Homo sapiens: one gene and its partners. The protein of the gene in region 2 purifies or fractionates together with the protein of the main gene of each other region. This does not show direct contact. Each region holds a gene or a part of one and is shown on either strand. Other genes may lie near its edges. The genes, in order: ZNF217, ZSCAN4 and RNF20.

The links.
Region 1: the proteins of ZSCAN4 (region 2) and ZNF217 purify together in Homo sapiens (affinity purification with mass spectrometry, with the first as the bait; one large-scale study listed by BioGRID). This does not show direct contact.
Region 3: the proteins of ZSCAN4 (region 2) and RNF20 purify together in Homo sapiens (affinity purification with western blotting, with the first as the bait; one study listed by BioGRID). This does not show direct contact.

Annotation. Positions count from the first base shown.
Region 1 is NC_000020.11:53,569,772-53,573,425, forward strand, and holds part of ZNF217 (zinc finger protein 217), read right to left. Parts: intron 3,086-3,654; exon of another isoform or gene 2,877-3,085; intron 2,083-2,876; coding exon 1,973-2,082; 3' UTR 1,950-1,972; intron 733-1,949; exon of another isoform or gene 501-732; intron 1-500.
Region 2 is NC_000019.10:57,675,328-57,678,981, reverse strand, and holds part of ZSCAN4 (zinc finger and SCAN domain-containing protein 4), read right to left. Parts: intron 2,942-3,654; 5' UTR 2,837-2,941; coding exon 2,441-2,836; intron 1,069-2,440; coding exon 903-1,068; intron 817-902; coding exon 77-816; 3' UTR 1-76. UniProt on the Homo sapiens protein: Embryonic stem (ES) cell-specific transcription factor required to regulate ES cell pluripotency. Binds telomeres and plays a key role in genomic stability in ES cells by regulating telomere elongation.
Region 3 is NC_000009.12:101,550,847-101,554,500, reverse strand, and holds part of RNF20 (E3 ubiquitin-protein ligase BRE1A), read right to left. Parts: intron 2,818-3,654; coding exon 2,682-2,817; intron 2,361-2,681; coding exon 2,239-2,360; intron 2,119-2,238; coding exon 1,748-2,118; intron 514-1,747; coding exon 396-513; intron 1-395. UniProt on the Homo sapiens protein: Component of the RNF20/40 E3 ubiquitin-protein ligase complex that mediates monoubiquitination of 'Lys-120' of histone H2B (H2BK120ub1).

The DNA of each region.
Region 1 (3,654 bases), on a different chromosome or scaffold from region 2:
GTAATTTAACTGAGATGACTTAACCAAGAATCAGAATTCAGTAAAAGGCAGTTGCCATGCACAAGAAAATCCCAGCTACTCAGGAGGCTGTGGTGGGAGGACTGCTTGAGCCCAGGAGTTTGAGGCTGCAGTGAGCCAAGATCGTGCCACTGCACTCCAGACCCTGTCTCAGACAAACAAAACCAATATGTGAGCTGGTCCAGAGGATGAGAAAGAAGAGGCTGGAAAGCAAAGACAGAGCAGGCAGGATGTTCTCCAGATGAAGGAAACACAAGCAGAGAAGCTCAGAGCTCCCAGAGAGACACCAGCTCCAGATACAGGAGCATGGCTGTTTGCTACTACTGATCAGTTGTAATGGATGCTTCGAGTAACCTGTTACTAAAATCTGCTCCTCATAATTCATAAATTATTTTTATGTTTTAATATAGAGTGGACTGGATCTTATTCCTGTGATGACAAAGCTTTACTCCCTCATGTTCTTCATCTATTATCCTAAGCAGGAGAAAAGACTGCAGAACCACACAAGGCTCACGCTGCCCAGGGAGAACGTCATCTCAGTTCCCATATGAGTCCCGATGAAAATATGACAGAGAAATTCTGTCCTGGACCACGAGCATCTTTTCATCTTCGTATCCTAGCAGCCAGCAGGCACTTGGTGAAGAGGCTGCTCAACGAATATACAGTGACGGTTTTACGGGACAAGAGTTACCTGAGGAACAACTAAATCTGCCCGTGAGCCCCAAGCTTTCCATTTAATCTTATTGTTGAATGAGTCATAGTATAACCTGTACACAGACATCACACCTTCTGCCCAAACTAATTAACTAAATATAAACTAACAAAACCAACATGCATAATTCTGATACTACTACTTGAGCCTTACGGGACGGCGGTGCACTACAGTGAGACCTTTAACATGTGAACCACATGCTCACATACTTGCTCCTGTCCCAGTTCCCCTCCTTGGCAGATAAGTACTTATCTTGGCAGATAAGTACTTGCCAAGTCTTTGAACAAGTTCTTAAACTAGAACGTTGGGCATAGAGCCTGGATCTTTGCAGACCTAGGACAAAAACCAGGCTCCTGCCTCTCACAGGCAGAGCGGGGCTTTGAGCAAACTGCATAATCCATGCCTCGGTCTCATCTGAAAAGCATGCACAGTACCTCCTAATGCTGGGTCACAAACTTTTTCTGTAAAGGGCCAGACGGTAAATAGTTTCAGCTTTGCAGGCCACGTGGTCTGTCACAACTGCCCGACATTGCTGCTGCAGCAAGGAGGTAGCCACAGACAATATGTAACAGATGGGCATGATCATGTTCCAATAAAACTTTATTGATGATGATGCATGAAAAGCTAGTTTGCTCATCCCTTACCTAAGCCCTCTGCTGCAACAGAATTAAATGAGATCCTGATAATAAAACACTTCATTCAATGCCTAGCACAAAGTAAATGCTCAGTAAATTCCAGTCACTATGACTGTTTTCCTATTATCTTCAGTAATATCCAAAGATCCTGAGGACTCTAATTTTAAAACACCTAAAAAATCAAAATCCAACTTAAAAGCAATTTTGTTACATTATATTAGACAACTTAATGGTTTATTTCCGATCAAGTAAAATCAATCCCCGCCCCCGCCCCCCCTTTTTTTTAGACTGAGTCTCGCTCTGTCACCCAGGCTAGACCTGCAGTGGCACAATCTGCTCACTGCAACCTCCGCCTCCTGGGTTGTTCAAGTGATTTTCCTGCTTCAGCCTCCTAAGTAGCTGGGACTACAGGCACCCGCCACCACGCCCAGCTAAATTTGTGTATTTTTAGTACAGACAGGGGTTTCACCATGTTGGCCAAGCTGGTCTCAAATGCTCGATCTCAGGTGATCCGCCCGCCCTGACCTCCCAAATGGCCACCGCACTCAGCCAATCCAGTGTTTTTAATTGAAACATATGCTCACCTTTTTTCCCCCTAATTAGTGAATCAAGTTTTTTTGTCATTTGGTCGATAATGTGCATTCCCAATAAAATTCTCATAGTTTCTCTTTTGTGCCATGCTGTTAGATAAGTGTTGATATGACACAGGCCTTTTTCCTGATTGAAAAAAAAAACATATTTAGAGTTAAGGTCAAACAATTAGGTAAGATGTGTATAGGTTTTTAGAAGTCAATTTTCAAAATTTCTGACACTGATAATGTAATCAACGCCTAAGTCACACAGTCGCATGCAAGTGTTTTCAGTTACAGCTGAATTGTTTTTATGACACTTGTTAGCACAGAATTTGGTTGATGTCACTAACATTAAAATTGTCTGGGCTGTCACTAGAAAGAATTAAAAAGCCGGAAAAAAATGACATCACAAAATACTTGAAACGTATATGCATCATGAACCAAACTATGTAAAAGTGTTGTTTTTTGCTTTTTTTAAAATCATTTAAAAGGGGATTTGCCAGCATAGGCAACATGGTGAGACCTCTTCTCTACTAAAAATAAAAAATTAGCTGGGTATGGTGACATGCACCTTTAGTCCCAGCTACTCGGGAGGCTGAGACGGAAGGATGGAAGGATTGCTTGAGTCCCGGAGGTCGAGGCTGCAGTGAGCCGTGATTGCCCCCACTGCACTCCAGCCTGGGCAACAGAGTGTGACCCTGTCTCACAGAGGAGGGGAAAAAAAAAAGAGGATCTGACTTGCAACACACAGAGCCTTTTCCCCCTTTAAGTAAAGACAAAGTTTTGATTCATGTCCATTTTAAGCACCATGGGGGGGGAAATGAAGATTTTTAACCAAAAGGCAGTAAAAATTACTATTTCATCACAATTTTTATAAAATCTACTGGAGTGTCTGAAAGCAATTGTTTTTTAATTTGCTATCTCTACTGAACCAATCAGCATCAAGCAATTCTTGACAGAGTGTTGTCACCACACAGAATCCTCAGTTTGAAACTAACACAAACTGAAATGTGCAAAACTGAATCTGTTTCTTTGGGGAGCACAAACCAGTAGAGCTTCTATGTGATAAAGGAAGATGCTGCAGTTTGACCGAGTTTGCCAAGGAGAAGATGTCCCTGGGACACTGAGCTACTTTTTTACACATACAGGTATGTGCCAGACACCTGTACGAAGTGACACCACCAGGACACATTTCTATGGGGAAAACCCCAGTCATCTATGAGGTTAACAATCTACCTATGGGGGAAATAAGGTTGGTTTTAAATTAATACAGTTGTCCCTCAGTATCCAGAGGGCACTGGCTCCAGGACCACCCGCCCCCACCACCCCAGCCAACAGATACCAAAATCCATGGATGCTCAGGTCCCTAATATAAAACAGTGTCGTATCTGCAGTATTCATAGTATCTGTAGTACTATTTTTTTTTTTTTTTGAGATGGAGTCTCGCTCTGTCGCCCAGGCTGGAGTGCAATGGCACAATCTCAGCTCACCGCAACCTCCACCTCCCAAGGTTCAAGTGATTCTCTTGCCTCAGCCTCTGGAGTAGCTGGGATTACAGGCATGCGCTACCACACCCAGCTAATTTTGTATTTTTAGCAGAGACGAGGTTTCTCCATTGTTGGTCAGGCTGTTTCCCAAAGTCCTGGGATTACAGGCGTGAGCCACCGCAACTGGCCTTGTAGTACTATTAATTTGCAGTATTGTAGCGTAACCTATT
Region 2 (3,654 bases):
TATATCCTAAGTAGATAAATACTATAGGAATATACATACTTGCATACATATTTATACACATTATCAGACCAGCAGCTTAGGAAGCTTCTGGTGTGGAGGGAACACTTGGCAGGGTAATTTTCTCATGAGTCCTCATATGGCGGTGGTATGTGGATGACTGGCGGTAGCTTGTCTTACAAAAGGGACATGTATAAGGCTTTTCTCCTGTGTGGATTCTCTCATGAGACCGCAGGTTGGTTTTGTGGCTGAAGGACTTTTTACACATGCTGCATGTGAAAGGCTTCTTTCCTGTGTGAATTATCTGATGCACCCGTAGGTCTGATATCTGGAAGAAGCCTTTTTGACACTCGGGACAAACAAATGGCCTCTCATTCCTGTGTCTTCTCTGGTGAGCTAATAAGTGACAGAGATACTTAAAGACCTTGGGGCATTCTTCACATTTGTATGATTTTTGGACTCCATGGGATCCTTTCTGATGTACCTCACATGTGGAATTTCCCTCATTGCTCTGGTGGGTAAGGGCAGACTCAGGGGAGGACTGCTCTGGTTGAGAGATACACCCTGCTCCCATCACCATAGGGACACCTTGGAAAGTGATTCCATTTATGGACCCTTCCTGAGATCTAGCAGTGACTAGCTCTGCTCTTTTTGAGTTGTATGGGTTGTCAGAAGAAACACCTCCCTCTTCAGGCCTAGGACCGTTCTCTTCCTGGATGATGATTAGGGAAACTATTTGATTGCCTTGATTAGTAATATTTTCATTTACTCGAGTAGTTTTCGAAGAACTGTTCCAGCCATCTTGTTCATCTTCATATCCTGTGAAAATAGACACTCAATGAAGTTGTACTTAAGAAGGGGTCCACATAGAACACTCCTCAGTTGTGCAGATTCACCTGACTTACCTTGTCCTGTTTCTAAGGAAGTATCTTGGGAAGTCTGGGAGGGTGTCCCCATGTTTGCTTCTCTTGTGGTTTGGGCATTCACTTGTTTTGTGAGATGAACAATGACATCTCTTAAGGGCATATCCTCAGAAAAGAGAGCTTCCTGTCCCTGCATGTGGACGTGGACCTGTAAAGAAAGCCAGATCACTGTTGTATCTGAATCTGTTGTGTAACAGAAGACTTTTTGGAAAAGTGGTCCTTAACAGGCTCTCACAAGCTCCCTCAAGTATTGGCTATCACATATTTTGTCCACCATCTCTGATGGTGTTATTCTTGTTACTACAAGCTCTTATGTTTAATAAAGTCACATGGACATTGAATTTACAAGTACTGAATCATTTCCCCTAGGAAAAATTCAGGGTTAGTTTCCTGTGAGCTTCTGGCTACATTATTTTTGTCAACTGATCAATACATGAGTTTGTTTTATGTGTGTATATGTTCAAAGACACCCCATTTAATATATATTATTGATTAATCCTGAACTCAGAGGATCCAACACATGTATTATCTCCATAATACATAGCAACTTTCCTGCACTTAGGAAGACTAGACAGTGTTTCAGCATTTTACTTCAGTGTCACTTTAAACAACAAAGTTATCAATAAAAAGCAAAAAAAAAAATGTGCCACTAAATAGACTGTGAAAAGGACACTTATTTACACTGTAGGAACCAAAATAGGAAGTGAGGTTGTGGCCTTGTTCAACCTCACCTGGAAACATGCACCTAAGGTAAATCAAATATTTTACCACCTGCACATATCTGAAAATGACGGAGAAGATGCCTCAGGTATTTATTTTAAGCTTACAAATAAATTTTAGCAATTTTGCAAATATGGGCTCTGAGAATAAGGATCTACCGTAATTGCTTCTTTAGAATGTCTTTCTTGATTAGAGTTCCCTGACAGAAGAACAAGCTCTTGTCAAGACATTTCTTCCTCAACCTTGATGTCTTCATTTAAATGTCAATTTCAGGCTGGTCTCACACCTGTAATCCTAGCACTTTGGGAGGCCAAGGCAGGCGGATCACTTGAGGCCAGGAGTTCGAGACCGCCTGGCCAACATGGTGGAACGCTGTCTCTATTAAAAATACAAAAATTAGCCGGCCTTGGTGGAGCACGCCTGTAATCCCAGCTACTCTGGAGGCTGAGCCACGAGAATGACTTGTGCCTGGGAGGCATAGGTTGCAGTGAGCTGATATCATGCCAAAAAGTCAATTTCTCAGAGTCTGCCATTATGCAGACTAAAATTAAGTTAATCAAACATCAATATGTTTGGCTCCTATATGTCCTACAGAATAAACAGATATATACCTTTTTGCTTTTTTTCTTGAGAACTTAGGACATTGAAGATTATTCTTTGTGAGAATGGTGGGAGAGTGTGAGCTGACTAATAACTGGACCTCCAATAGCTTCTCTAACTTCCAGACAACTCTAACTGACTGTGATTTATTCCTTACTTTCCTTTGTCTCTCATCCCAGAAGTTAGAACCCTGTACTCACTAAGGCAGGTGGATTTATGCTGTCATCAGTCAGGTCTTCTATGAATCTCTCCAAGTTTTTGCCACTTGATTTCCATTTCTCTTTCACACTGGCTTTGTCATTGCAGTGGCCACCAATCATAAACTGCTCCAGGACTAATAGAGAAATAATTTCATCCTTGCTGTGCTTTTCTGGTTGCAGCCATGAGTGAAAGATCCTATAAAGTCTTTGCAATTCCTGCCTTGCATATGAATTATTGCTGTCTTGAAATGAATTGAGCACCATTCTTGAGAACTCAGAAATCCCTTCTTCTCTCTGAACAGCAGGTCCTTGGCTTTGTTGAAACGCTGAATTTTCTGATCCAAGATTATTCTCGGATGGTTCACACTGAAATATGGTTCTTAGATCTAAAGCCATTCTTAGCAATAATTCTCAGAGAGACTTTACTTTGATGATTCAGTCTCTTGCCTTGTGTCTCTAGGGATTTGTTTCAACAGTTGGTGGATTCTTTAAAACTGCAAGCTAGAAATAGAAAAGAGATGAGTAATTAATTGCACCACTGGCATAATTAAAGACAAATCAACCAAAAAGTTAGGCCTACATGGCTCTATGGATGAATTCAAAGAAATAATTATAACTTAACATAAACTCTCCCAGAGCATATAAGAGGAAGCACTACCCACTTTAGTTACTGAGGTCAGCACTTCCTGATAACAAAATTTTACAAATACATTAAAATTATCCAAAACAAAATATTTGAAAATAAAATCTACTCACATATACATCGCAAATGGTGTTCATTTCCAAAATGCAGGAAGTTTGGGTTAAAATTCAAAAATCAATGCAATTTACTTCGTTAACGGGATATGGATACAAGAACATAATAAAATCATCTCAATGAATGCATTTAAAATGTTTAAATGCCAATGTTTATTCCTGAAAAAGGCACTTAATAAACTAGAACTATTAGGAAATATCCTTGGCTGGGCACAGTGGCTCACTCCTATAATCCCAGAACTGTGGGAGGCCGAGGAGGGCGGATCACTTGAGGTCAGGAGTTCGAGACTAGCCTGGCCAACATGGTGAGGCACCATCTCTACTAAAAATACAAAACTTGCCGGGTGTGGTTGCTCATGCCTGTAATCCCAACACTTTGGGAGGCTGAGGCAGGTGGATCACCTGAGGTCAGGATTTCGAGACCAGCCTGACCAATATGGTGAAACCCCATCTCTACT
Region 3 (3,654 bases), on a different chromosome or scaffold from region 2:
TTCTATAAGCAACACTTTTGAGAAGTGCACAGGTAACTTTCTTTAGAATAGTGGTTCCCATCCTTTTTTTTAGGCCTCAAAATTTTAAGAGCATAAGACATTCCTCCCAAAAGTAATGAAAAAGATTATCCCTGTAGCAATGAATTACATAGGAAAAACAAGGAATACATACTTTGGAAAGCCTACTCATAACCCCAGTAATTCAGATATATTTTACCATCCTATGGAGAGTTTTAAAATCTCTACTTCAGATGGTCTTTGAAAAGGCAGAAAATGTTGCACTTAAACACTTATTTTAAAGATAAAGAAAGAAATTATATCGTTGGCAAGTATAAAGGAAAATCCCACAAATGAAGATTTTAACCAGAAGGACAGGTAATAGCAGACTAGAATACCTCTGCCTTAGACTTCTTCTCAGCTGCCATCAGCTGAACTTTGTCTCTCTGTTCCTTTGGGGCAGAACGGTACATATCCAGCAATAGTTTCATCTCCTTTTGGCTCTCCTGTGCCTTCCTATGACAGGCGTAGTAGAGGGAGGGGAACAATGTAATAAGAAAATAAAGGTCATCAGAGCAAGGGAATTTTGATTGAGCAGAATATTTTAAAACAGTTTCATTTTACATTTCATATCACACCTAAAAGATAAAATTTTGCACAGACTATCAAAAGACTTTTGGATATGCTTAGAAAGTACAGAAAAGTAAGCTGTATAAAAATGAATCATTTCTCCCTTCAAAGTCCTCTAACAAAGTTATAAAACAGACATTTGTGTACTTGTTATATAGGCAAATTTCTGTGGCCCCCAACCCTGGGTAACTGAGATTCAGTAGGTCTGGGGATGGAGTTCAAAAATTTAAACAAGTGATTTAAACAAGTCACTCAGATGATTCTGATACCACACCAGAAAAAAAAAAAATTGCCTTAAAGAGTTCAAGAGGGAGAAATAAAAGGGAAAAATTTGAAAGTCTGAGATATACTGTTAATCCTAGATTTGACAGCTGAGTGATTAACCATCAGCCAAAGACTAAAACTTCACCTCTTATTAAATTACTAAACCTCTTAACTATACTTTTATATACCAAAAGAGTTCAAGCATTTTGAGCACAGTGGTCTCTCAAGTCCAAACATCAACAAAGGATCAACCATAGAAAGTAAGGAGCAAGAAGTAAGCCGTTCTGCCAGAGAAGTTATTGGTTATACAGGAGAAGGGCCAATGCATAAGGTTATGACACAGAAAAATTCAACAAGTTAAAGGTCTATCTTAGTGTGTCAATGTGTATAGGAGTAAATCTCCTAAGAAAGATATGGCATATTCACAAACCAGTTAACTCTCAGGCAAATAGATCAGATATTGTTCAAGTTACAGTGATATATAAATACTCCACTTAATATCATTTAAATTACAATTAACGCCAGCAATCTGCTCAAATCCAGTGAAGAGCAGTAGTTAATTCCCAATAATTCTCAGAAGTATTACCTCAATCATGACATCCTTTTCCTTAATTTGGATTCATAAAAATAAGGCTACCATCATCGGTTTGCTGATACTCGATCACTGAACCAAAGTACTAAATAGCCATGCAAGCCATTTTGGCTGTGCACTTGAACACGACTTGAAACCAAATTAATTGTACAATCTAAAACATTAAAACGATCAGACAAGCCATGCCATCAACCAAACATTTCATGCATGATGTCTTAATCTTAGCTTTTCAGTCGAAACTGTTACTCTAAATGTGGTTCTTACTTGAGTTCAATCTTCAATTGTTTGATAATTTCTGCTTCCTTTTTCCGTCCATCATCATGTTTGCCTTTCTCTTTATCCTTAGCAGAATCTCTCTCTTTTTCTGACTCTTTTAGCTTCTGCTTCTCTCGTTCTCTCTCCTTCTCCTTCTCCCGTTCTCTTTCTCGTTCCCTCTCCTTCTCCCTCCTTTCTCGTTCTCGTTCTTCTTCATCCCGTTTAGACTTGATTTCATTGGCATCCTCCTGAGATGCCTTTGAAGCTGAGGACTGGGAGGATAAGTCCTCAGAATCTGGTTTTAGCTCCGCAGGCTCATCCTTCGGGTCCTCAGTACTAGACTGGGACTGCAGGAGGGCACTACCACTACGCAGGCGTGTCTGGGAGAATAAAGAAAAGAAAGATGCACATCTCTTATGATAACCACATTGCCGACCTCATTCAAAAGCAGCTTTACGACATTAATAGCAAATGATATTTATTCTATTCCCTCTGGTTACCTTGTTCAGGTCAGACTGGGCTTCTCTCAATTTCCGCTTATATCTCAGGACCTCCCCTTTCAGCTGGTGATTGTGATTCTGGAGGCTACTGATGAGGTGGCGCATCTCCCTGTTTATAGGGCCTTAAATACAGGAACAACAATGTTATGAGGAACCGTGGTAAGGGCAAAGGCACAAGGAGAGAAAGAACAGAACACATCAGGAGGCACTGAGAAATAGGGAGAATTACCAAATAAAAGATTCCTTCTCAGAAGATGAAAACAAAACTGGTCAACTTGAGTTAAAAAACAAACATCCAGGCTGTGAACCAAAATGAATTATAGGATTTAAGGTACTTATGACTTCTGAGTTGAAGTCAGCATTAACAAACCCTGGGGTCTGTGTTGTATCTTTCAAGGAAGGTATTAAGAGCAAACTACAGCATGGAGTGAGAATCATTATACCTGCTTGTTCATTGGCAGCAAGGGTCTGCTCAAATTCTATCCTCAGCATTTCATACTCCTTGCGGACCTGGGCCAATGTATCTTCTAGCTGAATTACTTCAGTCCTCAGCTTCTTATGAAGACTAACCTCATCTCGCTACACACAGATAAAGGAACCAATAAAAAAATTCTTATTAAAATGTAGAAATATCATCATATTCTATGGATTACTCTGAAAATTTCCAGTTCAATCTATACGTAATGAAACCAGATATCTACAAAAGACTAATTTGGAAACTGACAGGATACTGAAAAATAAAGAAAATGGCCACCAATTCTGAGAATATTAGAATTTAGTTGGAGAACTAAACTATAAAACAGTATATAAACATATGTAAAATAGTATTCAATTCATTTGTCAGGCATATATTAAAAGACCAACTATTATAACCATTACCTTAAAAACTATGGAAGATACAGAAATGAACATATGAATAAAAGTTTCTATCTTTTAAAAAAATCATCTACTGGTGCCATTATATGCTTTTTGTTTAAGAAATGTAAGTAATTTTGCAGCTTCTACCCACTATTTTCTCACATACACGTAAGCTCTAGCCATATTAAACTATTTCTCATGCTCTCTCATACCTTTATATGTGCTGTTCTCATGCCGGGAATTCTTCTTCTCCTACTTTCAACTACCAATAATTTATCCTTAATATTTATACCTTACTTTTTTAAGTGGAATCAGGAAACTTCCACAGTCAAATCAGACACTCTTTTCTCATGTATCACATCTTTTGGCTATGCTGCCATTGTACCACATTGCATTCTAATGGATACTATTCTCCCATTACTGCAGACTACAAGATCTGTGAGGGCAGGAATTTTGTCATCTCATCTTTATATGCCCAGTACCTACCAGAGTAAAGACCTACTGCCACTCTATGAATGACAGCTGAATGAATGAGAGATTAATTGCACATGAGGGAGT